Regions from separate parts of the Homo sapiens genome. Here region 1 is linked to region 2. The links come from fine-mapping of genetic effects on gene expression. A gene starts in region 2. The other region holds a variant in brackets. All regions are shown on one strand. Distances are from middle to middle.

Region 1 (15,753 bases), 89 kb before region 2:
CACAGGAGCCGGTAAGGAGGGGCTCCTGAGCATCAGAGGAAAACAGGTGGCACTGGTAGGTGCCTGGAAAGGTGTGTGAGGAGAAGATAAGGCGATGCTGAAAGAGCTGCAGAGGGGTAGGTGGACTTGGAAGCGGATATTCCTACACTGGGGGAGGCCAGGGACCTGGCAAACTTGGCGGTCTTGTAATACCATCTACCCCTTTTAACTACCAGGGAACTAAGATTTCCAGGGTTTCCTAAAGCAGCAGTGACATGAGGCCAAGTCTGCACCCGAGATTGAGGGGGTGAAAGGATATTAAAGGGAGAAGGCAGCTTTTTCAGGTGTTTCAGGGCAAACTGAGTGCCTGTAGGGCCTGAATCTGTGGCTGCCCCTGTGTGCTGAGAGGGATCAGCCCTCCGGGAAAACATGCAGCAAAGCTATTCACGTGCTGTGTTTGGCCAAGAGATTGGTGGCGGGCCATTTCCTCCGAGAAGGAGAACCTGAAATTGCTACTGTCTCGGAATCCAGCCTGAACAGAAAGAGAAGTGAAAAGGGTGCTTCTCAGAAACATCAGGATTGTTCTCATTTGCCTCAATTATTTTATTGAGGAGTTTTTCCTCTCCAGTCACAGTGCTATCCCTCTAGCCCAAACCACCACTACAGAGAACCCCACCCAAGTGCCACACCAGCCCTCTGGACAGCACTATCATCGCTCCCCTCCAAAAAAAAAAAAAAAAAGCCTATTCTGGGCTGGCCATCAACTCACCTCACTCATCTTATATCCATCAATCCTTCCATTAATTCATTTTAAAATGGTATTAAATGTCTCACACATGGAATATGGTTGGACCAGTTTAACCTGTCCAGGCACAGTGGCTAATGCCTGTAATCCCAGCACTTTAGGAGGGAGGCCGAGACTGGAGGATCACCTGAGCCCAGGAGTTCAAGACCAGCCCTGGCCACATGGTAAAACCCCATCTCTACCAAAAAAAAAAAAAAAAATTAGCCTGGCACAGTGGTTCATGCCTATAGTCTCAGCGACTAAGGAGGCTGATGTAGGAGGATCACTTGAACCCAGGAGGCCAAAGTTGCAGTGAGTCATGATTGTGTCACTGCACTCCAGCCTGGGTGACAGAGTGAGACCCTGTCTCAAAAAGAAAGAAAGAAAAAGAAAGGAAGGAAGGAAGGAAGGAGGGAAGGAAAGGAAGGAAGGAAGGAAGGAAGGAAGGAAGGAAGGAAGGAAGGAAGGAAGGAAGGAAGGAAGGGGAGCAGCTCATGCCTCAAACTGGGAGAGCATCATCTCTAAGCTAATGAGAGTAAAGAATGGTTCCCTCCACTATGAGGGACATGGTGGAGAAGGGGAAGGTGGAGACCCCCACTGGAAAAACTGTGAAATGCTCTGAAACTAGTGGTTGACCTTGGACAGATTATCTTACTCTCATTTGCCAAAAGTAGCAATAATATTCTCTCTACTTCCCTCACTGGAGTTTCCAAAAGATAAATGGCATGCTGATTAGAAAAACATAACGTGCAGTTGTGAGGATCTGCCAGTTAGAGGGTTATGAGTCAGGGTAACTGCCTAGTAATAAAGCCCTTGCCATCTATGACTTCATTCTTGTGGACAGTGGAGTTTTAACTACTTCTATATATATATATAAACCACACTAAGCCAAGAATTTACTAACAGGGAAAATTATTGGGGCAAAAGGTGAGGAGTATAGGGGAACTCTCAGTATTTTTCATTCCCATTTTTCTGTAACTCTAAAACTGCTTTGAAAAATATATACATAAACGTAACTGTATATATATACATACAGTTATATATATATTTATATATTATATATTTATATATATTATATATACATATATATATAATATATATATATATATATATATATATATAACTGCAGATCATCTTGAGTCCTATTCCTGAAATCTTTCTCCCCTCTTTAAGATGGAAACTACTTCCATCAAGTGGAGTGGTATAGTCAACAACAAAAGGCAATGGGAATAAAATGAGATTGAAATCAAAAGATGAATTTTCAGCCTGTCCTTCAAAGACTATCCCCTACCTTCTGTGGAAGACCAGGGTGGGGGAAGGATGTTCAGGTGATCTTTCCTTGCCCTGCAATTTGTGGGGAAGCCATATGTGTACCCACATAGAGGGTGCAGCAGCCACTATGTGCATATATGAAAATGCTCTTGCACAAACACAAGAAATGAGCTCATCAGTATCACCATAGGGGTACCATCTGAGCTCATTCTATTCCAGACTTTAGGTTCTTAAAAATATAATATCAGTCATATTTTCAGTTAGCACATATCTGGGACTTTAGGGTATATGATTTTTTCTCCTAATTCAGGAATAAAGAAACTGAGGTTTAGAAAGATCAAGTGTCTTGTCCACGCTGGCACAGACTGTTACTGGTAGAACTGGGGGGTCGGGGTGGGGGAGAGAAGAGAAAATGAAAGAAAACAAAACAAGCCTTGTTATCTGCCAGGTCCTGGAATTTCTTGCAAGGTCTACAGATGGCCTAGGAGCAACCCTCCCTCTCCTAGGCAGTCTCTCTCACTGTCTTATAGGCTCTTTATAAAAACACAAGAGCAATGAGACATGATGAACCTGGCCACAAATTTGGTCTGCTAGAGAGAGAGAGAGAGAGAGAGAGAGGGACCATATCCCTGGGGACAGGAAAATAACAATGTGTGTGGGTTTCCGTACAAAGCCGCCCTCAGAGGGTGACTCAAGGCCCTGAGAGACAGCCAGGGTAAGAAGCTGTTTGTAAAACAGCTCTGCTTCCTTTTTCCCACCACACCTCTGTGATGCTTTTGTGCAAAACAAACTTTTTACCAGAATTAGCAGGAGCACTGAGACCCGGAAAAGCCACTAAACATCTGAATATGGCTGCATCCCAGGGAAGGCCAACAGCTGCCTGTTACTGGCCCAGGCTGGACATATACACATCTCCCAGCCACCATCTGCAGTGCGCCATAAAGAGAGTTTCTTATTTTTGTTGTTTTTTTTTTTGAGAAATGGGGTCTCCCTATGTTGCCCAGGCTAGTCTTGAACTCCTGAGCTCAAGTGATACACCTGCTTCAGCCTCCCAAAGTGCTGGGATTATAGGCATGAGCCTGGCCAAGAGAGTTTCCTATATTGAATTCTAGATGGCAGTGAGGACTGAACCCAAGGGCACTCTCCAGGTTCCACTGCACAAGGAGCAGGCATCTTTCTTGAAACATTTTATGGCTCCCTCTTACTTCTGCCAAATGCCCTGCCCTCAGGTTACCTGTGCTCTGACCTGAGGGGGAGGCAAGGCTTAGGAGATTTCCCCACCCAGGAGGATTTCATTTCCGCAGGGACCAGGAAGACATCTGACCCCATTCATGATGTGATTTAGCCAAAGTGACAAGCCCTTGACAAGTTAACAAGGGGCTCGGGAGAAGGGAAGAGGGTGGCCCCGGTCATGCTGGGAGCCTCTGTGTTGTGGTGGTGGGTGCAGGGGGAGTGGGCAGAGCTCCTCTCTGGGGACTTTCTCAGGTGAATGAGGCAGAGCTTGATCAGTTACTTGCACATTTGCATTTAGATGGATTCAGTTTTTAAAGAAATTATAAGCCAGAGAGTGAGATACAGGTGACTCCTGATTCTTTGATTTAGTTTGGAGAGGAGGGCGGTTCTAACGCAGATAACATATACAGTTCGCACTTTGCAATGAAAGCCAGATTTGACTTCCAAAATATTCTCTCATATTAATATTGTAATGTTCACTTTTCATATAATAACAGTTATAACTTTCCCTCTCTAAAAGTCTGTAGAATTATGGTGGTTTCATTTCAAAATGTGTTTTCCTAACAGTGAGATGTAAATAGAAATCTGGTAATTCCTAACAGGACTAAATTCTTATAAGATTTTTTGGACAAATCTAAAGGGAATCACTGATATGTCTCTCTCCTACCACAGACATGCAGGTAATAAAATAAAATAGTCAAAGAGTTTGAGAATCTTATCTCCTTTAAGTTCACAGTGTGCTAAGTAAAATAGAACTGTCAACTGTGGTCACATATCTTGCAAATACCACCCCCTGCTGTTTGTCTCTTAAGTTTGCTATGGTGAGTTTTTTGCTGTCTGGAAATTTGAACAAATGTTTTCTTTATGGCGCTGTCATTCTTAGAAAGCTCTCCTTTTTTGTCCCATTATTTAAAAATATATTACTTATGTCCACACAAAAATCTGCACACAAAGGTTTATAGCAGCTTTATTCATAATTGTCAAAACTTAGAAACAACCAAGATATCTTTCAATAGGTGGATGGATAAATAAAGTGTAGCACATCTAGACCATGGAATCTTATTCATTCAAAAAGTAACTGGGCTAACAAGTCATGAGAAAGCATAAAGAAAACTTACATGCATATTGCTAAGTGAACTAAGCCAATCTGAAAAGGCTATATACTGTATGATTCCAACTAAATGGTATTCTGTAAAAGGCAAAATGATGGAGACAGTAAACCAATCAGTGGTTGCTGGCGGTTCCAGGTGATGGAGGGAGAGATGGATAGGTGGAATATAGGGAATTGTTAGGGTAGTGAAACTATTCTGTGTGATACTATAATGGTAGATACATGTCACTACACATTCATCAAAGTCCATAGAATATACAACACCAAGGCTGAATCTTAATGTAAACTATGAACTTTAATTAATAATAATTTATCAATATTGGCCCATCAATTACAACAAATGTATCACACTAATGCAAGATGTTACTAATAGGGGGAATTGCTAGGGCAGACGGTGAGGAGTATAGGGGAACTCTCAGTATTTATCATTCCCATTTTTCTGTAAACCTCAAACTGCTTTTTAAAACAAAACCTATTAATTTTAAAAAGGGGGAGATTAAAGAAGATAAGATGAGGAAAGAGTGAGTAAAAGAAGGTGGGATAGGGAGAGAGGAGTTGAGAAGGGATGAGAAGAGGAGAGAGTGGGAAAGAGGGGAAGAGGAAAACAGGGAGGAGAGGGGTAGGAGGGAAGAACAAGGGTCACTTGCACACGGTAAACTCCTTACCCTATAAGAACTTATTATACAACACATTGGAGAGACAGCCAAGATAACTAAGTTGTCATTAGATTAAAATTATATGAATAATATGAAGGTGTGAAGTGAGTCTTATATAACAAAAGCCTTATATTAACCCAAGATGTAGATCATCTTTTATACTGCTACTCTGTACGACTTTTATGGTTCGTAATAAATGCTTTTATTTTTCATGATTCACCTAACAATATTTTCTTTATCTAGCTACTTTTTGTTTTTTGTTTGTTTGTTTGTTGTTTTGTTTTTGAGACGGAGTCTCGCTCTGTCACCAGGCTGGAGTGCAGTGGCACTATCTTGGCTCACTGCAACCTCTGCCTCCCAGGTTCAAGCAATTCTCCTGCCTCAGCCTCCCGAGTAGGTAGGCGCCACCACACCCAGCTAATTTTTGTATTTTTAGTGGAGACGGGGTTTCACCATGTTGGCCAGGATGATCTTGATCTCCTGACCTCGTGATCTGCCCGCCTTGGCCTCCCAAAGTGCTGGGATTACAGACATGATCCACCGCACCCGGCCCTTGTTTTGTTTTAAGCCTGCTTTGGCTTATCTGTATCTCTCAGTTAATTCCCAGGATGGATGGATAGATAGATAGATAGATAGATAGATAGATAGATAGATAGATAGATAGATAGATTCATAGATAGATAGATAGATGATAGAATACAGATATTAATATCTAATAATATAGAGATCTATAGGCTAATAATTGTATATAATATGTATAATATATGTAATAGCAGAGAAGTGGGACTATGATAATTTGAGGCCTTAAACTATCTGTGAATATATACAATGTTATTTAATGATACACTCTAATTAATTAAAAACATATAACTCCTGTACCAAGGACTAAACTTTTTTTAAAGGGTGAACAAATAATAAGTCAATAGAGGAGATGAAATAGAATCATAATTCCAGTAAATGCTCAATTACCTCAAGAGAAGGCAGGAAAAAATAAAGGACA[G/C]ATGGATTAAATAAAAAATAGCTAAGAAAATGGTAGATTTTAATTCAGTTATATAATAACACGAAATGTGAATGATCAAAATATACCAATTAAAAGACAGAAATTTCCAGATATGATTTAAAAACAAGACCTATGTATATGCTGCCTTAAGAAAAAGTCACTTTAAAAACAAAGACATAAATATGTTACAAATAAAAGAATATTAAAAATGTATACCATCAAACAATATCCAAAAGAAAGCTGGAATAGCTATATTCATGTTAAAAAAAAAAGAAGCTTTATCAAGTTGAATGATGAAGAAAAAGGTGAAATTTTAAAAAAATAAAAAATAAAAATAAATAAAAATTTTTTAAAACTTCAGAACAAAGAGTATTATCAAAGGTAAAAAGAAATACTACATAATGATAAAAATGCCAATTTACCAAAGTAACATAACAATCCTAAATGTATATGAACTTAACAAAAGAGCTTCAAAACTCTTAAAGAAAAATTGAAAGAACCAAAAGCTGATATAGATGAATATCTACATTACAGTTGGAGATTTTAACACATCTCTCTCAGTAATGGATAGAACAAGTAGCTAGAAGATCATTAAGTATGTAGATGACTTGACCACTATCAACCAATTTGACCTATTGACACTATTGACCTAATGACACTATTGACCTATTGACACTTGACCTATAGCATACTTCGATCAACAACAGAACACACATTCTTCTCAAATGCACATGGAGCATTCACCAAAATAGACCATATTCTGAGCCATGAAACAAACCTTAACAAATCTAAAACAATAGAAATTACATAAAGTATATTTTTACACCAAAATGGAATTAAATTCAAAATAAATAACAGAAAGAATCTAGAAATTGTCCAAAGATTTGAAAATTAAACACATACTTGAAAATAACCCTTGGGTACAAGAAACCTCAAGGCAAATTTCATTTTATTATACTTTAAGTTCTAGGGTACGTGTGCACAACGTGCAGGTTTGTTATATATGTATACATGTGCCATGTTGGTGTGCTACACCCATTAACTCGTCATTTACATTAGGTATATCTCCTAATGCTATCCCTCTCCCCTCCTCCCACCCCACAACAGGCCCTGGTGTGTGATGTTCCCCTTCCTGTGTCCAACTGTTCTCATTGTTCAATTCCCACCTATGAGTGAGAACATGCAGTGTTTGGTTTTTTGTCTTTGCGATAGTTTGCTGAGAATGATGGTTTCCAGCATCATCCATGTCCCTGCAAAGGACATGAACGCATCCTTTTTTATGGCTGCATAGTATTCCATGGTGTATATGTGCCACATTTTCTTAATCCAGTCTATCATAGATGAACATTCCGGTTGGTTCCAAGTGTTTGCTGTTGTGAATAGTGCCGCGATAAACATACGTGTGCATGTGTCTTTATAGTAGCATGCTTTATAATCCTTTGGGTATATAACCAGTAATGGGATGACTGGGTCAAATGGTATTTCTAGTTCTAGATCCCTGAGGAATCACCACACTGTCTTCCACAATGGTTGAACTAGTTTACAGTCCCACCAACAGTGTAAAAGTGTTCCTATTTCTCCACATCCTCTCCAGCACCTGTTGTTTCCTGACTTTTTAATGATCGCCTTTCTAACTGGTGTGAGATGGTATCTCATTGTGGTTTTGATATGCATTTCTCTGATGACCAGTGATGATGAGCATTTTTTTATGTGTCTGTCAGCTGCATAAATGTCTTCTTTTGAGAAGTGTCTGTTCATATCCTTCACCCACTTTTTGATGGGGTTGTTTGTTTTTTTCTTGTAAATTTGTTTGAGTTCTTTGTAGATTCTGGATATTAGCCCTTTGTCAGATGAGTAGATTGCAAAAATTTTCTCCCATTCTATAGGTTGCCTGTTCACTCTGATGGTAGTTTCTTTTGCTGTGCAGAAGCTCTTTAGTTTAATTAGACCCCATTTGTCAATTTTGGCTTCTGTTGCCATTGCTTTTGGTGTTTTAGACATGAAATCCTTGCCCATGCCTATGTACTGAATGGTATTGCCTAGGTTTTCTTCTAGGGTTTTTATGGTTTTAGGTCTAACATGTAAGTCTTTAATCCATCTTGAATTAATTTTTGTATAAGGTGTAAGGAAGGGATCCAGTTTCAGCTTTCTACATATGGCTAGCCAGTTTTCCCAGCACCATTTATTAAATAGGGAATCCTTTCCCCATTGCTTGTTTTTGTCAGGTTTGTCAAAGATCAGATGGTTGTAGATGTGATATTATTTGTGAGGACTCTGTTCTGTTCCATTGGTCTATATCTCTGCTTTGTACAAGTACCATGCTGTTTTGGTTACTGTAGCCTTGTAGTATAGTTTGAAGTCAGGTAGCGTGGTGCCTCCAGCTTTGTTCTTTTGGCTTAGGATTGACTTGGCAATGCGGCCTCTTTTTCGGTTCCATATGAACTTTAAAGTAGTTTTTTCCAATTCTGTGAAGAAAGTCATTGGTAGCTTGATGGAGATGGCATTGAATCTATAAATTACCTTGGGCAGTATGGCCACTTTCATGATACTGATTCTTCCTATCCATGAGCATTTGTTTGTGCCCTCTTTTATTTCATTGAGTACCAAAGCCTGGCAGAGACACAACAAAAAAAGAGAATTTTAGACCAATATCCCTGATGAACATCGATGCAAAAATCCTCAGTAAAACTGGCAAACTGAATCCAGCAGCACATCAAAGAGCTTATCCACCATGATCCAGTGGGCTTCATCCCTGGAATGCAAGGCTGGTTCAACATACTCAAATCAATAAACATAATCCACCATATAAACAGAACCAAAGACAAAAACCACATGATTGTCTCAATAGATGCAGAAAAGGCCTTTGACAAAATTCAACACCTTCATGCTAAAAACTCTCAATAAATTTGGTATTGATGAGATGTATCTCAAAATAATAAGAGCTATTTATGACAAACCCACAGCCAATATCATACTGAATGGGCAAAAACTGGAAGCATTCCCTTTGAAAACTGGCACAAGATAGGGATGCCCTCTCTCCCTCTCTCACCACTCTTATTCAACATAGTGTTGGAAGTTCTGGCCAGGGCAATCAGGCAGGAGAAAGAAATAAAGGGTATTCAATTAGGAAAAGAGGAAGTCAAATTGTCCCTGTTTGCAGATGACATGATTGTACATTTAGAAAACCCCATCGTCTCAGCCCAAAATCTCTTTAAGCTGATAAGCAACTTCAGCAAAGTCTCAGGATACAAAATCAATGTGCAAAAATCACAAGCATTCTTATACACCAATAACAGACAAACAGTGAGCCAAATCATGAGTGAACTTCCATTCACAATTGCTTCAAAGAGAATAAAATACCTAGGAATCCAACTTACAAGGGATGTGAAGGACCTCTTCAAGGAGAACTTCAAGGCAAATTTTAAAAATATGTTTAAATAAGTTGATATAAAATGCCAGCAAATCAAAATTTATGGAAGAAAGCTAAAGGAGAGCTTAAAGGAAAAATTATAACATTAAATGCTTATACCAGAAAAGAAGAAAAACCTCAAAAAATTAATTGCTGCATTCACCTTAATAAACTAGAGAAAGAAGAGTAACGTAAACCCAAAGCAAGCAGAAAGGGGAGAAAAGATAAGAACAAAGTTATGAAATTAAAAACAGAAAAAAATAGTAGAGAAAAATAATAGAATCTCAAAACTGGATCCTTGAAAAGGTTAACAAAATTAATGGGTACTATCCTCACTACCAAGGTGATGGGATCCATACCCTAAATCTCAGCATCATGCAATATACCCATGTAACGAACCTGCACATGTACCTCCTGTATCTAAAATAAAAGTTAAAAAAATTAATAAACCTCAAAAAATGGTTTATCAAGATAAACTTCTCTCCAAAGAAGATATTCAAATGACCAATAAGCACATGAAAGATATTCAATATCACTAGCTATTAACAAAATGCAAATCAAAACCACAATGAAATATCACTTCACACCCATTAGGTTGGTATTATCAACACACATGCACACACAAAAAAATAAAAAAAAATAGCAAGTGTCAGCAAGGATGTGAGAGAAATTGGAGCTCTTGTGCATTGCTGGTGGGAGTGTAAAATGGTGCAGCTGCTGTGGAAACGATATGATGATTCCTCAAAAAAATTAAACATAATTACCTGTGATCCAGCAATTCCACTTCTGGGTATACACCCAAAAGAAGTGAAAGCAGAGACTTGAACACATATTTGTACACTGTGTCCATAGCTGCGTTATTCACAATAGCCAAAAGGTGGGAGCAACCCAAGTGTCCATTGACACATGAATGAATAAACAAACATGATATATTCATACAATGGAATATTATTCAGCCTTTTAAAATAAGGAAATCCTGACTCATGCCATCACCTTCAATGGCAAAAACTCTGATTACTTTTGCACCAAAAGTACACTTCTTTAAGGAGTCCTGGTTCCTTTCATTGGGGAATGGCAGTATAGCAGTTTCTTATAAATGGAAAATAGTTTTGCAATTTCTTATAAAGTTAAACATGCACTTACCATGTGACCCAACAATCCCACTCCAAGGTATTGACCTAAGTTAACTGAAACCTTATGCTGACAGAAAAACCTGTACCTGATTTTTTTTTTTTTTTTTGAGATGGAGTCTCACAGGCTGGAGTGCAGTGATGCTATTTCAGCTCACTGCAACCTCCGCCTCCTGGGTTCAAGTGATTCTCCTGCCTCAGCCTCCCGAGTAGCTGGGATTACAGGCATGCACCACCACGCCAGGTGAATTTTTGTATGTTTAGTGGAGAAAGGATTTTGCCATGTTTGCCAGGCTGGTCTTGAACCCCTGACATCAGTTGATCCTCTTGCCTCAGCCTCCCAAAGTACTGGGATTATAAGCGTGAGCCACTGTGCCTGGCCCTGAATGTTTATAGCAGCTTTATTCATTACCAAAGCTAGAAATAGTTCAGCTGTCTTTCACAGATGAAAGGGTAAGTAAGTCTGTGTATATCCAGACAATGGGATACCATTCAGCAATAAAAAGTATCAACCCACAACACATGAATGAATCTGAAATTCTTTTTGCTAAATGAGAGAAAATCCAAAATGTTACATACTGAATGATTCTATTTATATGGCATTCTGGAAAAAGCAAAATTATAAAAATAGAAAACAAATCCGTGGTTGCCTGGAGTTGGGGGAGTCCTATGAAATGATGCCCCACTAAAGGGCCTCATTAGGAAACTTTTGGGCAGTCCAATTGTTCTGAGTTAAACTGTCTTGTTGTACACGTGACTCTATGCCTTTCTCAATCCCATAAACCTATACACCACAAAGGGTAAACTTTGCTGTATACAAATTTTTAAAAAATCAACTGAGATCTTGGGGAAATCCAAGATGAAAAGCGGACTGCTAAAATGAATCTAACCGTATTACAAATAAAAAAACATAACCATACGGAAGTTAGGAGGGAAGAAACGAGCTGACCTAAGTGCCTTTGTAAAGCAATGTTTTGACTGGAGAGTGTCAGGCCAAAGACAAGAAGAACAGTACAGAAGCAACAAACTCTCATTGGTAAATTCGTTTTTCACAAACAACCCTAAACCTATGGTATACTTGGGCTCAAAAATAATTAAATATAGTGTAAGCTATGGGATCCACTTTTCTCATTGTCAGAAAGAAGTTACAAATAAGCAGAGATAATGCTAGAATAAATCCTGGTGCTGGACTGGAGTTAGAAATATCAGTATGAACTCATGGTTGATTTATTTTTAGTAGATACAAAAATATAATATGTGTGCATATATGGGTCAGTTATACATACATGAATTACCTAGCTCTGCCCACTGAGAGAGAGGAGACTATGAGCAGTGACACCAGTAGCAATGAGCACAGCCAGCACTCAGATCTTGATTTCGAAATGCCGTTCCCTGATGAAAGGAACCAGGACTCCTTCAAGAAGTGTAGAAGTGGCTGATTCCAGGGCTAGGATAGGGAAAATAAATATAAGATGAGCCTGGAACACCTTATAGTGCCAGAAAGTAAAGAAGTGAAAACAGGATAAAGCATGTGAAAAATGCAGAAGAGGAGGCAAAAATTTGCCCCTCCTCTTTTATGGTTTTGTTGTTGTTGTTGTTGGGGGTTTTTTGTTTTTGTTTTGTTTTCTTGTTTGTTTGTTTGTTGCCTGGGCCTGGAGAATTAAATAGACATAAGACAAATCAACAGGAGAAAAGTATATAAATTATTTAATGCAAGTTTTTTAATGGCAGGAGAGCATTCATAAGGAAATGAAGACACAAAGCAGCAGCTAGAGTCAAACATTTATGCCCTGAATTGTGAAAATGTAACAAGGCAAAGGGGCTTATGCTAGGGTAAATAACTGGGTAAATAAGTAATTAGGAACATAAGGGATGCTTGTATAGATTCCTATCAGCCTCAACTTCCTATCCTTTGTGATGAGAATGTTACTTTCTTCTTGGTTTAGGGAGAACACCTTTCACATGGGAATTTCATCTCTGGCTTTTAAAGAACAGTGAAGGTCAGAGTGATCTTCTTGCATCTCCTGTTTTTATGTGCCTTTAGTTTAAAATAATTCTGATGCCAAAGTGGCATATTTGGGGATGATGTGTTCTGAGTGACATGTTTTGGGGTAGTGTATTCTGAGCCTCTTCATTCCCCATTTGAAACTTTACTTTTAGAAAGTTTCATATGTTAAAAGCCAAGTTAGTAGCTGTGAGCAGATTTGGGTTGGAAGTTGTGAAACAAGAGATCAACGAAGGGAAAGAAAAACAAGGATCGGAACACACAGAAGAACAAATATTCCCCGTATCTTATTGACACAGCCTTTTAGTCCTGAGAACAGTTCAGTTGAACAGTTGCGTCTCATTTTAGGAGGCCGTGTTGCAGTTGGGCTTCCATCCAAGTTGAGACTTCATAATGTAAACAATAAGAGGCATTTCTTTTTTTTTTTTTTTTTTTTTTTTTTTTTTTTTTTTTTTTTTGAGATGGAGTCTCGCTCTGTCGCCCAGGCTGGAGTGCAGTGGCGCGATCTCGGCTCACTGCAAGCTCCGCCTCCCGGGTTCACGCCATTCTCCTGCCTCAGCCTCCCGCGTAGCTGGGACTACAGGCGCCCGCCACCACGCCAGGCTAATTTTTTTGTGTTTTTTAGTAGAGACGGGGTTTCACTGTGTTAGCGAGGATGGTCTCGATCTCCTGACCTCGTGATCCGCCCGCCTCGGCCTCCCAAAGTGCTGGGATTACAGGCGTGAGCCACCGCGCCCAGCCCAATAAGAGGCATTTCTATGGAAACAAAAGAAAAATAAAGGTTAATGTTTAGGGCAAGTTATAAGCCCAGCTTTTGAGTCCAGAGGGCAATCAGTTGGTAAAGGGTACTATAGGTTGGGCTCAAAGCATCTTTAGATAGAGAGTGAAGATAAGCAGTGGTAATTCTGATCAATTTCCTGATTTGCAGTTTGAATGTCTCTGGTGAGGTCATTGGGTGTTCCAGTGGACTTTCTGAGTGGCCTACACAGCAACAGGCACAAAGGTTGCTTATATATTAGTTGTGGTAGTGAGTTCTCTGAAGTTTATATCAAGTCATCCAGTTTCAGCTTGCAAAATTTCAGGAAAAGGGCAGCTTCAGTTTTCAGTGATGTCAAGTCAAGAGAGTAGGAGAAAAACATGAAGCATTAGCCTGAAGATTTGTTGCCGGATATGGGAGGAAATTAGAGTTTAATATCTAATCCATTCTACATATAGATAACAAAACTTCAAAGACAATGAACAGTACTAGAATCCAATAACGGGTACACTATAGTTTTTGTTAATATAATTTTTCTCTCCACAGTCACTCCCACTTTTACCAAACATAATCACAGTAAGACTAATTTTTTTACAAAATAAGTCTAGTCACATTAAACTTGTCTTGATTATTTATATAATGCAGCAAGAATAGTGATTGATCGTATAGGCTCTTTTTAAGTCTGCTTTGCTGGAACTGCTAATAAGGAATCTAAAAGCCTCTCAAGTCTAGGAAGCCAAGCCAAGAGCTTGTCATTAGATTTTGCCTGTAACACCTCTAGATTTGGGTGAGTTCCTCTGTTCTCGAGGTCTCCAAAATATTTTTAAGGCTCCTGGGCCTGCATGAAAGTTACCTTCTTTACTCAACTATAAGGCTAGGAACTCTGTGAGCAAGGTACCAGGCTGGGGGTTTTTTAAGGGGCCTTATTCGCCCCACAAAGTCATCCTTAGTTTCTTAAAACTGTGTAGTCATATCTGATTCTATGACATTCTAAAAATTACATTCCAAAGCTTTGGTAATGTAACCAATGTTTTCCATTGTGTCCTGTTACAAACAGATAGATTCTTATTGGACCTATACAAACAACTATGGTCATGAATGTAAGAATACTCACTCATCATTTTCAAATTCTGGAGGGATTAGGTAGGGAGAAAATCAAATGCTTTATTTCTGTTTACAAATGCATAATCTACCAGATTGTGGTCAACTACAGATAGCGTAGGATAAAAGAGAAAACATTTCCTCAGATCTGGAAAACAAAATATTAAAGAACGAGCAATGTTTTGAAAAAAGGTAATTTTTTAAAGCATCATTTTTTTTCATCAGTTCATTTAGTCCCATCCAATTAATTTTTGTTTTGCCCAACATCGGGTTAACAGTTTTACAAACCAGTCAGTTTCTTCATTAGAGTTCTGGAAATTCTTACCCAGGCCAATGGTGGGATCTTAAAGTTATCAAAAACCTGTACTTGTTGGAGTCTTTTCCATGATCTCTTTGAAGACAAATTTTGACCATAGTGGCTTGCAAAAGCTTTTAGGAAAATATCACAGTAAAATAACATGTAAATTATAAAAGATTTTTAAGTAGTCACATTTAAATATCTAATGAGAGTTTCTTACAATCTAATTGATGAGGAAATTTGGTTATTTCTGTGACATACAACATTGTAAAATAAGATGTAGAATTCTGATTGATAACATTATATCAGACATATGATGAATAGCTAAGGGTATTGACAAATTTTAAAGAATTTTATTTCTGAAACACTCTTATTAGTAACATGTGCCCATATAAATATAAAGAAAGCTAAACGTCACTTTTACTTGACAGTGCTTCCCACATAATTTAACATATCAAATAAGCCAATTAGTTTAATGTCCCTCTTTTACAAGGTGAGAGAGAAATTCTTTCACATTTTCCAGGAGCCCATCTCAAAAGTCCCAAAGTTAGTTCAAGATCAATAAAAAAGGCTTAATTTAGAAATTAATCTTGGGAAGTTTGTCAGAAACGTCAAAAGGGGCCGAGTATGGTGGCTCACACCTTTAATCTCCACATTTTGGGAGGCCAAGGCAGGAGGATGGCTTGAGCCTGGGAGTTAATACCAGCCTGGGCAACACAGACCTATCTCTACAAAATATTTTTTAAAACATTAGCGGAAGATAGTAGCATGCACCAGTAGTCCCAGCTACTCAGGAGGCTGAAGTAGGAGGATCCATTGAGCCCGGGGGTCAAGGCCGCAGTGAGCTGTGATCATGCCACTGCATCGTAACCTGGGTAACAGAGTGAGACCCTATTTCAAAAAATAAAAACAATAATAAAAACTAGGAGTGGAAAGGATAGGGGTTTAGATGAAACAAGATTGCCCATGTATAACTGTTGATGCCTAATGATAGATACGTTGAGTTCAGTACGCTATT
Region 2 (15,753 bases):
AGGGTACTCACCCAGCCCAGCAGTCAGAGCATGAGTTCCAGCAAGCCTCACCCCCATTGGCTGCAGTGCTTTGGGACCCTAAGTGAACTTGAGGAGCAGTCTACGCAACAAGGACTGCAATTCCTAGGCAAGACCTAGTGCTGAGCTGGGCTTGGAGTTAGTGAACTGGTGGGGCACATGAGACACCAACTGTGGTGTCTAAGGAAGTGTTTGCACCACTCCTTCCCCAACCCCAGGCAGCACAGCACACAGCTCCAAAAGAGACCCCTTCCTTCTGCTTGAGGAGAGGGAAGAGTAAAGAGGATTTTGTCTCGCATTTTGGATACCAGCTCAGCCACAGTATGTTAGGGCACTGATAAAGGCTGTGAGGCCCCCATTCCAGGCCCTAGCTCCCAGACAACATTTCTGGACACACCATGGGCCAAGGGAGCCCATTGTCTTGAAGGATGAGTTCCTATGCCTGGCAACATTCACCACAAGCTGACTGAAGTTCCTTTGGTCCTTAACTGAGCATCAGTGGTAGCCTGGCAGTACTCCCCACGGGCCTGGTGAGGCTCCTCTGCCTGTGAGAATGGGATGTAAGAATGAGAAGGACTGCATCCTGTGGTTTGAGTTCCAGCTCAGCTGCAGTAGAATAGAACAACAGGTAGACTTCTAAGATTTTAGATTCCCATCCATGGCTCCAGATGGCATCCCTGGACCCACTCAGGACCTAGGGGACCTCACCAACCTGAAGGGAAGGATGTAAGCCTGGCTGGCGTCACCACCTTTGCTGATTGTAGAGCCCTAGGGCCTTGAGCAAATAGGCAGTAGCCAGGTAGTGGTTACAGCAGGCCTTGGGCAAGACCCAGTGTTGTGCTGATACTCCATATCCGACCCAGCACAGTCCCAGTGGCGGTGGCCACAGGGGTGCTTGTGTTACTCTACCCCTGGCTCCAGACAGCTCAACACAGAGAGAGAGACTCCATTTGTTTGGGAGAAAGTAAGGGAAGAAAAAAGAGTCTCTGCTTGGTAATCCGGAGAATTCTTCTGGACCTTATCAAAGACCACCAACGTGATACCTCTACAAGTGTGCAAGAACCACGGTGCTACTGGGCTAGGGGTGCCCACTAAAGCAGATACAGCTTAGATCATAGCACCCAAGTCCTTTTGAATACCTGGAAACTGTTCCCAAGGAGGACAGGCTCAAACAAACTCAGACTGCAAACATGGCAATAAATACCTAACTTTTTAATGCTCGAACACTGACGAACATCCACAAGCATCAAAGCCATCCAGGAAAACAAGACCTCATCAAATGAACTAAATAAGGCACCAGGGACCAACCTGGAGAAACAGAGATATCTGACCTTTCAGACAGAGAATTCAAAATAGCTGTTTTGAAGATACTCAAAGAAATTCAAGATAACACAGAGAAGGAATTCAGAATCCTGTCAGAAAATTTAACAGAGATTGAAATAATTGAAAAGAATCAAACAGAAATTCTGGAGTTGAAAATTTCAATTGACATACTGAAGAATGCGTCAGAGTCTCTTAATAGCAGAACTGCTCAAGCAGAAGAAAGAATTAGTGAGAATAGACAGGCTATTTGAAATTATATCGCCAGAAGAGACAAAAAAAATTTTTTTTTAATGAAGCACACCTACAGGATCTAGAAAATAGCCTCAAAAGGGCAGATCTAAGAGTTGTTGGCCTTAAAGAGGAGGTTGAGAAAGAGATGGGGTAGACAGTTTATTCAAAGGGATAGTAACAGAGAACTTCCCAAAACTAGAGAAAAGTATCAAGATCTGAGTACAAGAAGGTTATAGAACACCAAGCAGATTGAACCCAAAGAAGACCACTTCAAGGCACTTAATAATCACACTCCCAAAGGGCAAGGATTTTTTTTAAAAATGATCCTAAAAGCAGCAAGAGAAAAAAAAAAAAAAAACAAGTAACATACAATGGAGGTCCAATACATTTGGCAGCAGACTTTTTAGTGGAAATCTTACAAGCCAGGAGATAGTGGCATGACATATTTAAGGTGCTGAAGGAAAAAACTTTTACTCTAGAATTATATATCTGGTGAAAATATCCTTCAAACATGAAGGAGAAATACTTTCCCAGACAAACAAAAGCTGAGGAATTTCATCAACACCAGACCTGTCCTACAAAAAAATGCTAAAGGGAGTACTTCAATCAGAAAGAAAAGGATGTTAATGAGCAATAAGAAATTATCTAAAGATACAAAACTCACGGGTATTAGTAAGTACACAGAAAAACACAGAATACAACACTGTAACTGTGGTGTGTAAACTACTTTTAAGTAGAAAGACCAAAATATGAACCAATCAAAAATCATAACAACTTTTCAAAACATAGACAGTACGGTAAGATATAAATGGAAACATCAAGAGTTAAAAAGTGGGGGAAGGCCTCACATGGTGGCTTCTGCCTATAATCCCACAGGGCACCCCTGTAATCCAAGCACTTTGGGAGGCCAGAGGTAGGCAGATTGCTTGAGCTCAGGAATTCAAGACCAGCCTGGATGACATGGCGAAACCCCATCTCTACAAAATATACAAAAATTAACTGGCATGGTGGCTCACATCTGTGGTCCCGGCTACTTTGGGGGCTGAAGTGGGAGGATCGCTTGAGCCCCAGAGGCGGAGGTGGCAGTGAGCTGAGATCACGCCATGCACCTCACTTCAGCCTAGATACAGAGTGAGATGCTGTCTCAAACAAAAAAAAAAAAGAACAAAAAGTAGGGGAACAAAGATAAAGAGAAAGTCTTTATTAGTGTTCTTTTTGCTTTTTAGTTTGCTTGTTTATGCAAGTAGTGTTAAGTTGTTATCAACTTAATAGATTGTAAGAGTATTTGCAAGCCCTGTGGTAATCTCAAATCAAAAAACATACAACAGATGCACAAAAATTAAAAAGCAAGAAATCAAATCATACCACCAGAGAAAATCACCGTCTCTAAAAGGAAAAGTTAACCGCTTTTCCCACATAACATCCAACTAAAAGAAGTAGAACCTGGATTCAAACTCAGGCCTTCTGGCTCTATATCCTGTACCAGTAACCATGCTGCTATATTTCCTTCCAAAATTGTGCTCAGCAAAGGGCTGCACAGAGGCAGTGACTGTTCTGGTGATTTCTGAAGTCCTACATGCTACCTCCAATATGCACCTGGAATGTCATAGTCACCAAAATGGTTTAACACAAATACATCCCTGCACCACACAAGGTCACATGTCTACCAACACAAATTCTTTATTTCAAAGATCAGCAACATATTTTAACTTCTGCTTCCTGATTTTCTGGCCTCTTGATTTTTTTCTTCTTTAAGAATCCAATGCACATTTCGTGAGGTAGCTACTAAAGAGAGCCAGGAGGAAGGAAGAATTCTGCTGTGTCTACTGCCCAGCCCCGGCTGCCAGACACAGCTGCAGCTGGAGGGAGGAATGTGGGATTTGACGGGGAAGCTGTCAGCTGGCCAGCACTGCCAGGCATGGTCAGTGAAGATACAAAGAGCGCCTGGAGGACCCAGCCCTGGTCTCTGACTCCTCACAAAGGTCTCCTTGGGGCTCCCTCCACCCTTGCCCCTCATGTGCCTTGGGATCCAGCATCAAAGTCCAGAAGTGGGCTCAGCCAGCAGCCAGCCATGCTCACACACTGAAGCATCCTGACTCAGCTCCTGGCTGCCCCAGCAGAGCAGAACCTCTGCCCGAACTTGGGGTCACCTGGCTCTTCTCTCTGGAGTCTCATATCCCAGCCCTCAGCAAATCTCCCCCAGCCTCCCTTCCAGCTACATCCAGAATGTGGCCACTTCTCATCACTTCCACCCCTGCAACCCTGACCTGGCAACCAGCCTTGCCCCCCAAGACTATTGCAACCACCCCCCGGCCTGCTCTCTGCTCCTGCCATCATTGCAGCCTTCACTCTTTTGCATTCTGTCTCCCCCAGCACCTCCAGATAGCACTTGCTAGAGGCAGGTCAGTTTTGGCCTCTGCACGAACCTGACAGAGGCTTCCCAAGTGGCTCAGAGTAAAATCCCAGTGACAGCCTTGGAGGCGAGGGCGTTTGGTCACTCTCTGAATCCACCTGCCACCACTTGCCCCTGGCGACAGCAGTCCCCTCACTCTGCATCAGGGACTTTGCATTCCTTGCTCCTTCAGCCTGAAATGCCCCCGCCACCAGGCATCCTTGTGGCCCACTCCTTCACCACATTGAGGAGAAGAGGAGTCCCCTTTCTGAAAGGTCAGGCCCTGCCCCCACCACATGCCCCTGCTCTGTTTTCCCCTGAGCATGTGCCCCACTGGAACACACTGGGTCACCACTTGCCGCCAACGCCTGCAGGACACCTCTCTGAACACCCGTGACACCTCATGGCACCTCTGCTGTCAGAGCTTCACTAGGACTCACCAGACTAAGCAGACAGTTATACCCACGGCCAACACACAGCAAGGACACAGCGGGGTCTGGAGGGGTCAGGGCACAGACTCGCTGAGCTCTCCCTCCCATGAAGGCTGCACAGAGCATACCCTGCGCCCTGCATCTCCCCAGGGAAGTAGAAGCTCAGAGCTGGGGCAGAGGTTGGGGCTGGTCACGTAGGCACACTCTCTGCCCACCACAACTAACAAGATTCCAGATTCCCAATAGGAAAGCAGGTGTTCACTAATCACATTGTCTGTAAAAACAGTCAGCAGGCCGGCACAGCGGGGCAGGATCCTGAAAGTTAAGTTCCCAGATGCCAGCCCAGGGCCAGCCCCTGTCATCAGCTGTCCCAGTGAGGAGGTCTGCTGTGAAGGCTCACAAGCTTCGCTGTTGGATAGTCTTCACTAAAATATGAGCCCCATAGAGGCTTTGGTTTTGTTTGTTCGTTGCTGTGTCTCCCTGGTGCAGAATGAGTGCTCCATAAACATTTGTTGAATGAATTAAGGACTGTCAAGTATAAGCCCACCAGCCAGTGGCAGAAGCAGGGCTAGCACCTGGAGATGAACGTTCTCCCCTCTCTGGGTGGGGCTGCCCAAGCCATCAGGACCTCACCAGGGCCCCTTATGACCAATGGCCCTGCCTCAGAAAATGGTGGAATTTTCTTTTTTACAAACCCACCTTCCCTAATCAGGGACAAAAGCTATGATGTTGGCTTCATTCACATAAAGATCTAATCGAATGAGCTTCCCTGGTGTACCCCCAGTAGGTCCTGGTGCAGGCGCGGGTTGCTCTGTTTCTTCTCTGTGGTTTCGTGGAAACAATCCCACTCTCTAGATCCTCTCAAATTAGCTCTGACAGGTTGTGACTTTCTGAAAGCAAAATATCAAGATTTAGCCACAGGACATGGTGAGCTGTGACCTCTGGCTTCCTAGCTCCACCTTTGTATATAGCGCTGCCCCTCCTTAGGCCTGGACCTCCTTAAGAAAGGCAAGCAGCGAACAACTGACAGGATACGGTCTTTGCCCAAGTGCTATCTCTAACTGTCAGCAATCATTAATTCCACAAGCGAGGAACCACACCTCAGAAACCAAGGTCACCTTCAGTATGGAGGGGCCAGCCCCAGCCAGGGAGCAGGAAGAGAGGTGGCAAGGCAACAGACCCCAAATTTCAAGTGTGACATCTCAAGTTCCCCAGCCACAGTGCACACAAACATGAGCAGAAACAATGGCCTTGGCCAGACATGGTCACTCATGCCTGTAATCCCGGCACTCTGGGAGGCCAAGGCAGGAGGATCACTTGAGGCCAGGAGTTCAAGACCAGCGTGGGCAACACAGCATGACCCCGTCTCTACAAATATATATATGTATATAACAACAGACTTACCAGCTTTTCTGCACAAGGATTCTGTTCGCCTCAGCTTTCCCAGTGCCTCTCTAGAGGGCTTCTCTATCTCCTCTGTCTCTATAGGATTCCCACAAGCCCCTCTTCACCCCCACACTTCTCTAGAAGCGCATAGGGAGGTTCCTCACTCTACCTCCTCCTTCCAGACACACCACCTGCCCTTCCTCAGCACAGCGACACAAACCGCACCCCACTCCCCGCATCAGCCCTGACCTTTTCCCATGTTGGGAAACACACCACATCTCAGTTCAGGACTCTGCTCCTACCCCCACTCACACTCCCACTCCCACCCCCGCCCCTGCCCAGTGTGTCCTCTTCCTCCTAAGTCCCTCGTGTATCGCAAAACCCCACACAGGCTCTACCTTGTGGATCCTCGGGGCAGCAGCCCCCCAGGGCACAGGGCTTGGAATTCACTCACTGGCCAAGGACCATGCTCTCTGCAATGAGGCAGGTAAAGAAGGTGTGCTGGGTTGCATAGCATCCCCCTAAAAATTCATGTCCTCCCTGGAACCTCAGAATATGGTCTTATTTGGAAATAGGGTCGTTGCAGATGAATTAGTTAGGATGATGTCATACTGGAGTAGGGTAGGCCCTCAATACAATCACTGGTGTTCTTGAAAATAGAGGTACTGAGACAAGGAGGACGCCATGTGAGGACAGAGATTGGAGTGACATGGCCACAAGCCAAGGCACTGAGGGACACCAAGGATTGCTGGCAACACAGAAGCTGGAAGAGGAGAGGAAGGACCCTCTTCTTGAGCCTCCAAAGGGAGCATGGCCCTGCCTACACCTTGATTTCACACTTTAGGCCTCCAGAACTGTGAGACAACCCATTTCTGTTACTTTAAGCCCCTGTGTGTGGTCCTCTGTGACAGCAGCCATGGAGGCTACTGCAGAGGGGATAGAGTCCCAGGACTTGGGGGCTTGCAGTCTTGAGGGGAATCTCCTTCCAAGCCCTTGCAGGACAGGCCCTTGGGCATCAATGTGTTGCACTTACTCTGTGCCACCTTGTAATATTAATCCTTCTATGTACATGTTATGGGCCCCGTTACATAAAAAATGCAATTCTTTCTGGTGTGCTTCAGCTCCCTGCCTACACGCAGTGTTCCTCCCTGCCCTCACTGCATCCTCCAGGTGCGGGACCTGTGGTGGTTCCTGTCCTCAGCCACATCTACCCTGGTGTGAGGACCTGTAGTCACTCAGTCTGTCTCCCAGGCCTTTCTTTTATTTATTTATGGACGTCCATTGCAGAACTGAATTAATTCTACCTCAGTGCATGGATGTCGTCATCACTGGCCCATACAAGTCCTCTCTCTTGTCTTTCTCACGTGTGTATGTATGTATTCCCACTCCCACCCCCGCCCTCACATCCATTCTAATGTGTATCCACTCTTGAAAGCGGGTGGCTTGGTGTGTACGTGTTTCCTGTTGTGTAATGGCATCGTGCTATCACTCATCCTGCGTCTTCCATGATCCTGAGATCCCTTCTCAGGAGTGGCTGTGTGGACATCCATGCCTTTGCACCCGCCAACTGCACAACACCCCATGGTGTGCAGTGACCACTCTCCTGGGGGTGGCACCCCGATGGCCTCCAGCTCCCCAGCCTCACAGCCACTTGTGTCTGCATCCCACCTCTAGGCCTGGGTGAGAACCTCTTTGACATATATTCCAAGAGACAGAGTTCCTGAGTCTGGAGAGCATGCAATTCTCTCATTTGCCCACACCCTGCAAAGTGCCCTCCAGAATGGCTGTGCCATCAATAACCCCTTCCCACAACCACACATAAGGTCCCCGTTTCCCCACATCTCTGTCAACACTTGGCATCATCCAGCTTTCCCATGAAAAATTATATCTCGTTGTTGAATGCTTTGCATTTTTCTAGTAACCACTACATTTGAGCATCTTTCCATGTGCTCTTTAGCCCTTTGGGGTGCCTCTTCTGCAAGTTACCCTTGGGATTCTTTACCAGGTTTCCATGGGGACTGCTGCCTCTTTCTGACCGATTTGCAAGAGCTCCTTGTGTATTCTAGATATTAGTCCTGTCACTTTTTGAAAACAGCTTTATTGAGACACACCTTACAATTCACCCATTTAAAGTGTATAATTCAATGCATTTTAGTACATTCACAGGTACATGCAGCCATCACCTTCAATTTTAGAACTTTTTAATCACCTCAAAAAGAAACCCCATAAGCATTAGCTCTCACCCCATCCCTCCATCGCACCCCAGCCCTAAGCAACCACTAATGTGCTTCTCATCTGCTTGAGAGATTTACCTACCCCACACGTTTCATATAAATGGAATAATGTGGTCTTTTGTGACTGGCTTCTTTCATTTGCCGTAGTGGTTTTAAGGTTCATCCACATTGTGTCATGTAACAGTGATTCCTTCCTTTTTATGACTGAATGATGTTCCATTGAGTGGATAGACCACATTTTGTTGACTCATTTATCAATGCAGAGACATATGAGTCGTCTCCACTGTTTGGCTATTGTGAATAACACTGCAGTAAACACTCTGGTACAGGTTTCCCCATGGACATAGGCTTTCCTTTCTCTTGAGCATATACCCAGGAGTGGGATTGCTGGGTTATATGATAACAACGTTAAGTCATTTGAGGAACAGCCAGACAGTTTTCCGAAGTGGCTGCGTCATCTCACCATGAACTGCCTGTGAGGCTTCCAGTTTCTCTGCCTCCTGGCCCCACCTGTTATTACCTTGCTTTTGAATTCTAGCCATCCTAGTGGATATAAAGTGGTATCTCCTGGTGGTTTTGATTTGCATCCCCTGATGACTAATGACATTGAACAGCTTTCCATGTGCATATTGGCCATTTGTGTATCTTCGTGAGGGGAATATCTATTCAGATCTTTGGCTCATTTTTAATTGGATTATTTGCCTCTTATTATGGAATTGGAAGAGTTCTTCTTACATTCTAGATATAATTTTCTTATCAGATATATAATCTGTGAATATTTTCTCCCATTCTATGCTTTGTCTTTTCATTTTCCTGTGGGTGTCCTTTGAAGCATAAAAGTCTTTTAATACTGATGATGTCAATTTATCTATTTTTTTTTCTTTGGTTATTTGTGCTTTGAGGTCACATCCAAGAATTAGATGTAAAGTCAAGCAGATTTACTCCTATGTTTTCTTTTTAAGAGTTTTACAGTTTTAGCTCTTACATGTATGTCTTTGGTCCCTTTCGAGTCCGTTTCCGTGTGTGAAAGGGTCTAACTCCATCATGTGCATGTGGCCCCTTTCCCTTTAAATCTTTGCAAGTCTCTTTTCTCGATCCATCCTCACTCCATTAACTTTGTCGCAGTTTCCTTTGTGGAATGGAAACAGATTGTAGTCCTCAAAATCAGGTTGTTCCTGAAACTCTCTTCTAATCCAAATCCCCCCAATTCTCTGCGGAGTTGGTGAGCCCATAACTGAGAATACATAACTCACAGTCCTCTTGAACACTGAGGGTGAAAGACGTTAGCATTCATTGTCTTTGTATCAATCATCATTTTAACATGGAAGGCAAATCCCCTTCCTCAGAAACACCAAAGACCTTCTGGAATTGCAAGCAAGCTTCAAGTTGACTAAGTGTGTTCACCTTCCTTCATCTAGCTGCCAGTGCACACTGAAATGGCTTGCATTGCGGGCAGCAGGAAGGATGATGATGAGAAATACAAAACCCCTATAACCACAAAGCGGTGTGCAATCCCTGAGCAACCAAACCTTGGTAATGGGGGATGATGACCCCTTGGCACTCCTGAGCCACGAACTTTTCCTGACTCTATTCTTTCCTTTCCAACTAGGAGTTACCCCGGTCACCACGTTCGCCCTTCTCAACCTGACTAAGTGGGCGTTAGCACTGTCCGCCCACTGCATGGGCACTACCTGCCCCAGTGTCCTCTCCCCTCTCCGCTCTGTGCCATAGCCTTAGCTACCCTGGCCAGCTTTCTCCCAGCCAAGTCCTTCCTCCTTTCTGAATCTGGTCAGGGTCTCAAAGATCGTTAAAAAGCCGCCAAAGTTTGCAACTCGTCTTGAGTGGCTGCTCCTCCCAAACGGTTCTGCCTCTGGTGTCTTGTTCTAGGAGCGGTTGAATTCTCTGTTTTGCTGTGGGTGCCAGCCTCTATCAGCCCCTGCCCTGGTCCATCTGTCAGCTTCAGGTAAGACTACCGGCTAGGAAATGGCCCCTTGTCCTTATCTCTGCCTCTAAAATATGCCACCTAAATTAACAGATCGTGGCATTGCATGGCTCGTCACAGAGAAGCCAAGGCAAATTCTTGTGGAAGGCGGCACTTGTCTGGAAACAGACTCAGGACAAGTGTGCTGCACAGCCAGCTTCCTCAAACCCACTCTCGCCACTGTAGCTGCCCACAGAGGCACCTCCCAAGCCATAGGCCCCTCCTAGGCCAGCTCAGGCCTCACCTTGTCCCTCCCTGCAGGGCGGGGTCTGATTGACTTCAAGAAGGAGTCAGAGATCAGCTTAAGGGCAAAGGCTGGAAGCAGAGCGAACTGGGAGCAGAGCACACAGGTGCGTTCTGATGGGTATTCGGGAGAGTCAAGAAGGGGCTGACCTGGAGGACAGAAAAGCAGTGGAAGGAGGGCACAGAGTGAGGGGCAGAAGAAACAGGACACAGAGGGAGGAGGGCCAGGAAGTGAGGGCGGGAGCCCAGCACATCACAGAAGGTGCCCGGGTGCTTGGTGGCAGGCAACAGCCGGCCAGGGTGGAGTGGGGAAAGCTCAGAGAGGAGGGTGAGCAGGGAGAGGGCTTGCTTCCTGTTCCTGCCTGGAGGTCTCACCAGCCACCACCCCCACTGCCACTGCACATGGGGACAGAGGTTTGTCCTGGGGAAAGCAAAGGTCTCTTCCACATCTTTCTCCTTCCTGGAAAAGCAAAAAGAAACGTGGGTATAAGAGGTTGTAAAAAAGGAGACCCAGCCGTGAAAGGACATGGAGGTACCCTAAATGCACACTGCCAAGCAAAAGAAGCCAATCTGAAAAGGCTGCAGACTGTAAGATTCCAAATACAGGACGTTCTGGAAAAGGCAAAACTATGGAGACAATAAAAAGAGCAGTGATTGCTAGGGTTTCGGAGGAAGAGGTGGAGCACAGAAGATTTTGGGGGAGGTGGAACTATTCTGTGTGATATTCTAATGGTGGATCCATGTCATTGTCCGTTTGTCCAACCCATAGAATATGCAGCAGCAAGAGTGAGTCCTGATGTAAACTGTGGGCTCTGGGTGAGAGTGATGTGCAGGTTCATCAGCCACAAATGTATGGCTCTGGTGTGGATATTGATAGTGGGGAGGCTGCGTGTGTAGGGGCTGTGAGTATACAGAAACTCTCAGTACCTTTCGCTCAATTTTGCTATGAACCTAAAATTCCTCTTTAAAAGACTCCTATTTAAAAGACTTTAATAGACTTTATAAAGTTTGTTAAAAGACTTTTAATAGACTTTTTAAAGACTTTTAACAGACTTTATAAAGTCTATTAAGAAATCTATTAAAGTCTATTTTTAAAAGTCTATTAAAAAAAAAGTCTACTATAATCCCAGCACTTTGGGAGGCCAACGCAGGAGGATCACTTGAGCCCAGGAGTTCAAGACCAGCCTGGGCAACATAGTGAGATCCTGACTATATATATATATATATATATATATATATATATATATTTATTTATTTATTTATTTAAGTCTAATAAGAAGTCTATTTGGGGCCAGGCCTGGTGGCTCATGCCTGTAATCCCAGCACTTTGGGAGGCTGAGGCAGGTGGACCACTTGAGGTCAGGAATTCAAGACCAGCCTGACCAACACGGTGAAACACCATCTCTACTAAAAACAAAAAATTAGCCGGGCATGGTGGTGCACACCTGTAATCCCAACTATTCCAGAGGCTGAGGCAGGAGAATTGCTTGAACCTGGGAGGCAGAGGTAGCAGTGAGCCAAGATCGCATCACTGCACTCCAGCCTGGGCTACAGAGCAAGACTGTCTCAGGAAAAAGAAAAAATAGTCTATTTAAAGAAGAAAAAAAAGAGGCCTGGCCAATATTTAATAGGAGAACACAAGAACTCACCTCATATCCTTCCTGCTGGCTCTGGGTTCCGCCTGCAGCCCCTGCCTCACCTGCTCCCTCCAGGTAAGCAGGGCCTCCGAGAGCCCAAGATCATGTGGGTTCCAGGGTCTTCTGCCAGCACCAGAGGGCAAGACAAGGCAACTAGAGGGACATCCCCATGAGAGGCCATGACCATGGAGCAAAACGAGGGCAAGGGGAGAGCCCTCGGGGAGAGGGGCATGGGAAAGGGAGAGAAGGACATCTCAGATCAGCCTTTACCGTGGCCTCCAGGGCTAGAGAGCCCTCGGGTGATGGAACAGGCCCAGCCAACACCTTTCATTTGTCTATGAATCAAGAACTGCCCATCGTGTACAAATTAAATACAAAGTGCTAAGGGGACTAGTGGAGAAGTATGTTAGTTGGGGCCAAAAACAGCATTCCTCGGCAGTGCGGGGTTTCAGCTGACCTCAAAAGGTGGCAAAGGATGTGACACTGGCCCAGAGTCGGGTGGGAAGGGACAATGTGCAGCTGAGCTTCTCTGGAGGAAAAAAGCCACGGGAAAACAGGGCCTCTAGTTAACACATGGGTTGTGTTCCCAACGCTTGTGCTTCGGAAATGTGATGTGTAAATGCATTTTCCAAAAACAAAAGCAAGAAATGAAAAGCGCTCATGATGGTCAGGTTTCCTCAGTGGGTCACTCCACGATACACCCAAAGTGGAGCTGCTGCACCTCAGTTACACCTCACACCCTGTGCCGCCGACTTTCCAGGTGAAATCCTCGGGGCCTCCCTTGCAGGCAGCCTGGGCCCCCTGGGAAGAGGCTGGGCCAGGCAGAGGTCTGAGACAGGAGTGGATTAACCCTCTCTGCTACCTGTCTGTCTGCACAGGAGAACGAGTTTTCTCCAGGTTTACCCCCAGGGCTTCTGATTTAGGGAGCAAAAGGCAACTACCTATGAAAATATGAAAACAAGGATCTCTCAGAGTCCAACCCACTCATGCATCCACCTTATAAATCAAGTGTCTGTGCCTCAGGCACTGCTTGCAGGAAGTGAAAAGCACAGCTGAGACAGGGAGGAATCCTGAAGCGGGGCTCCCAGCTCAACCCAGAGCCTTGAGGAAGGGGGTGCAAGGTGGCAAAGGCAGTGCTTCTGTAGGGAAATTTCACGGTGACGGCAGCCTTCCAGGGAGGCCCACATCACCTAGGAGGACAAGTTAGGGTCTGGAGAAACTAAGGCTGGGAGACAGCTCCAGCCAGCATCTGTAGCAACAGCGCAACAGGCAAGAGTAACAGTCTCCCAGAGACTCCGCACACAGCACATGGGAAGACAGAGCTGTGGCCACCACGTCTCCCAGCCCTGCAGGAGGCTCACAGCTACAAGCACAGGATTTTACAGCTGCTTGGGGAATGGGGTTATGAGGTGAAGACCCTGACCCACCCTCCCTGAGAAAGGAAAAGGCATCTTCCTAAGATGAAACCCTCCCTGAGGTCCCCTCCTAGTAGCCTTGGGTGGACAAGAGAGGTGAATGGGGCACAAAGAAGGCTAGGCAGGACTGGGCACCTCTACCTCACCCCCAAAGCCATCAGTCTGCAGCCTAGTCACACCTGAATCACTCTACATTGCGTAAAACTTTAAATGGGCTGGTGTCGATAGCCTGTATTTAACAAGAAGAGCAGCTAACATTTCTCATGTATTTCCCATATGGCAGACATTGTTACAAACACTTTATATTTACTGTTTAATTGATTTCTCTCCACAACCCTAGGAGCTAAGCACTGTTGTCATTATTTTCATTTTAAAACTAAGAACATGAAGGCCCAGAGAGTTTAAGCAGCGTGCCCAAGGCCACACAGCAAGTCCTAGTGGCATGAGTCACTGGGACTTGACTCAGACAGCCTGACTCTAGAGCCTACCTTTGAATTTCTACACTAAATTTCAAAATCTGTCTACCTAAAAGGTATTTCGTTGTGTCAGAAATGTAGTTTTGCTGTTAATACAGGTGTCTTCTTCTCCAGGACACAAGAAGCACCTGGGGGCATGTGCAGGGGCCCAGCCTGGCCTCTGTGACTCACGGCACCCCTGGCTGAGATAATACACAAAAACAAGGGTGTTCCCCTGAGTAAGGAAGGCTGCAGGACTGAAGGACATTTACAGAGGAGTGAGGAGAGGGCAGAAATAAATGGATGGATGCACAGGCAGCGGCCCGACGGCGCTGGGGACTATGCATGGGGCCCCAGCTGCCCCAGGACAGCCTCCAGCTTGGGGCAGGGCAAGGGGAGGAAGCTCAGTCCATGGGAAAATTCCATGGCCCTAACCTGAGGGAAGCCCATCTCTGCCCATAAGACAACTAAGTTCATCTCCTCTATTGCATTCCAGAGCCGTGGAGCGAGAGATGCCGGCCCTGGGCTGGGCCGTGGCTGCCATCCTGATGCTGCAGACGGCCATGGCGGAGCCCTCCCCGGGGACTCTGCCCAGGAAGGCAGGGGTGTTTTCAGACCTAAGCAACCAAGAGCTGAAGGCAGTGCACAGCTTCCTCTGGTCCAAGAAGGAGCTGAGGCTGCAGCCCTCCAGTACCACCACCATGGCCAAGAACACCGTGTTTCTCATCGAGATGCTGCTGCCCAAGAAGTACCATGTGCTGAGGTTTCTGGATAAAGGTGAAAGGCATCCTGTGCGGGAAGCCCGTGCCGTCATCTTCTTTGGTGACCAGGAGCATCCCAATGTCACCGAGTTTGCTGTGGGGCCCCTGCCAGGGCCCTGCTACATGCGAGCACTGTCCCCCAGGCCTGGGTACCAGTCCTCCTGGGCATCGAGGCCCATCTCCACAGCAGAGTATGCCCTCCTCTACCACACCCTGCAGGAAGCCACCAAGCCCCTGCATCAGTTCTTCCTCAATACCACAGGCTTCTCATTCCAAGACTGCCATGACAGATGCCTGGCCTTCACCGATGTGGCCCCCCGGGGTGTGGCTTCTGGCCAGCGCCGCAGTTGGCTTATCATACAGCGCTATGTAGAAGGCTACTTTCTGCACCCCACTGGGCTGGAGCTCCTCGTGGATCATGGGAGCACAGATGCTGGGCACTGGGCCGTGGAGCAGGTGTGGTACAACGGGAAGTTCTATGGGAGCCCAGAGGAACTGGCTCGGAAGTATGCAGATGGAGAGGTGGACGTGGTGGTCCTGGAGGACCCGCTGCCTGGGGGCAAGGGGCATGACAGCACAGAGGAGCCGCCCCTCTTCTCCTCCCACAAGCCCCGCGGGGACTTCCCCAGCCCCATCCATGTGAGCGGCCCCCGCTTGGTCCAGCCCCACGGCCCTCGCTTCAGGCTGGAGGGCAACGCTGTGCTCTACGGCGGCTGGAGCTTTGCCTTCCGGCTGCGCTCCTCCTCCGGGCTGCAGGTCCTGAACGTGCACTTCGGCGGAGAGCGCATTGCCTATGAGGTCAGCGTGCAAGAGGCAGTGGCGCTGTATGGAGGACACACACCTGCAGGCATGCAGACCAAGTACCTCGATGTCGGCTGGGGCCTGGGCAGCGTCACTCATGAGTTAGCCCCCGGCATCGACTGCCCGGAGACCGCCACCTTCCTGGACACTTTCCACTACTATGATGCCGATGACCCGGTCCATTATCCCCGAGCCCTCTGCCTCTTTGAAATGCCCACAGGGGTGCCCCTTCGGCGGCACTTTAATTCCAACTTTAAAGGTGGCTTCAACTTCTATGCGGGGCTGAAGGGCCAGGTGCTGGTGCTGCGGACAACTTCAACTGTCTACAATTATGATTACATTTGGGACTTTATCTTCTACCCCAACGGGGTGATGGAGGCCAAGATGCATGCCACTGGCTACGTCCACGCCACCTTCTACACCCCCGAGGGGCTGCGCCACGGCA

The links. PIP is the estimated chance that this variant, and not a neighbour inherited with it, causes the effect.
Region 1: its variant is fine-mapped to the expression of AOC1 in whole blood (TOPMed, PIP above 0.99).

The regions. Positions count from the first base shown.
Region 1 is chr7:150,752,983-150,768,735 of GRCh38, forward strand. LOC105375566 (a long non-coding RNA gene) reads right to left here. Exons shown (of 4, transcript XR_928163.2): 3 at 11,870-12,994; 4 at 8,605-8,645. Among named protein-coding and RNA genes, the nearest start is that of GIMAP5, 23 kb to the left of the region's middle. RefSeq lists silencers at 2,612-2,661, 2,702-2,761. The variant G/C (reference allele first, on the strand shown) is at 6,036.
Region 2 is chr7:150,842,213-150,857,965 of GRCh38, forward strand. AOC1 (amine oxidase copper containing 1) reads left to right here and starts at 10,305. Exons shown (of 5, transcript NM_001091.4): 1 at 10,305-10,346; 2 at 14,243-15,753. The coding sequence starts at 14,259. The region is part of intron 1 of LOC105375567 (a long non-coding RNA gene); the gene reads right to left. RefSeq lists enhancers at 9,887-10,458, 14,623-15,466.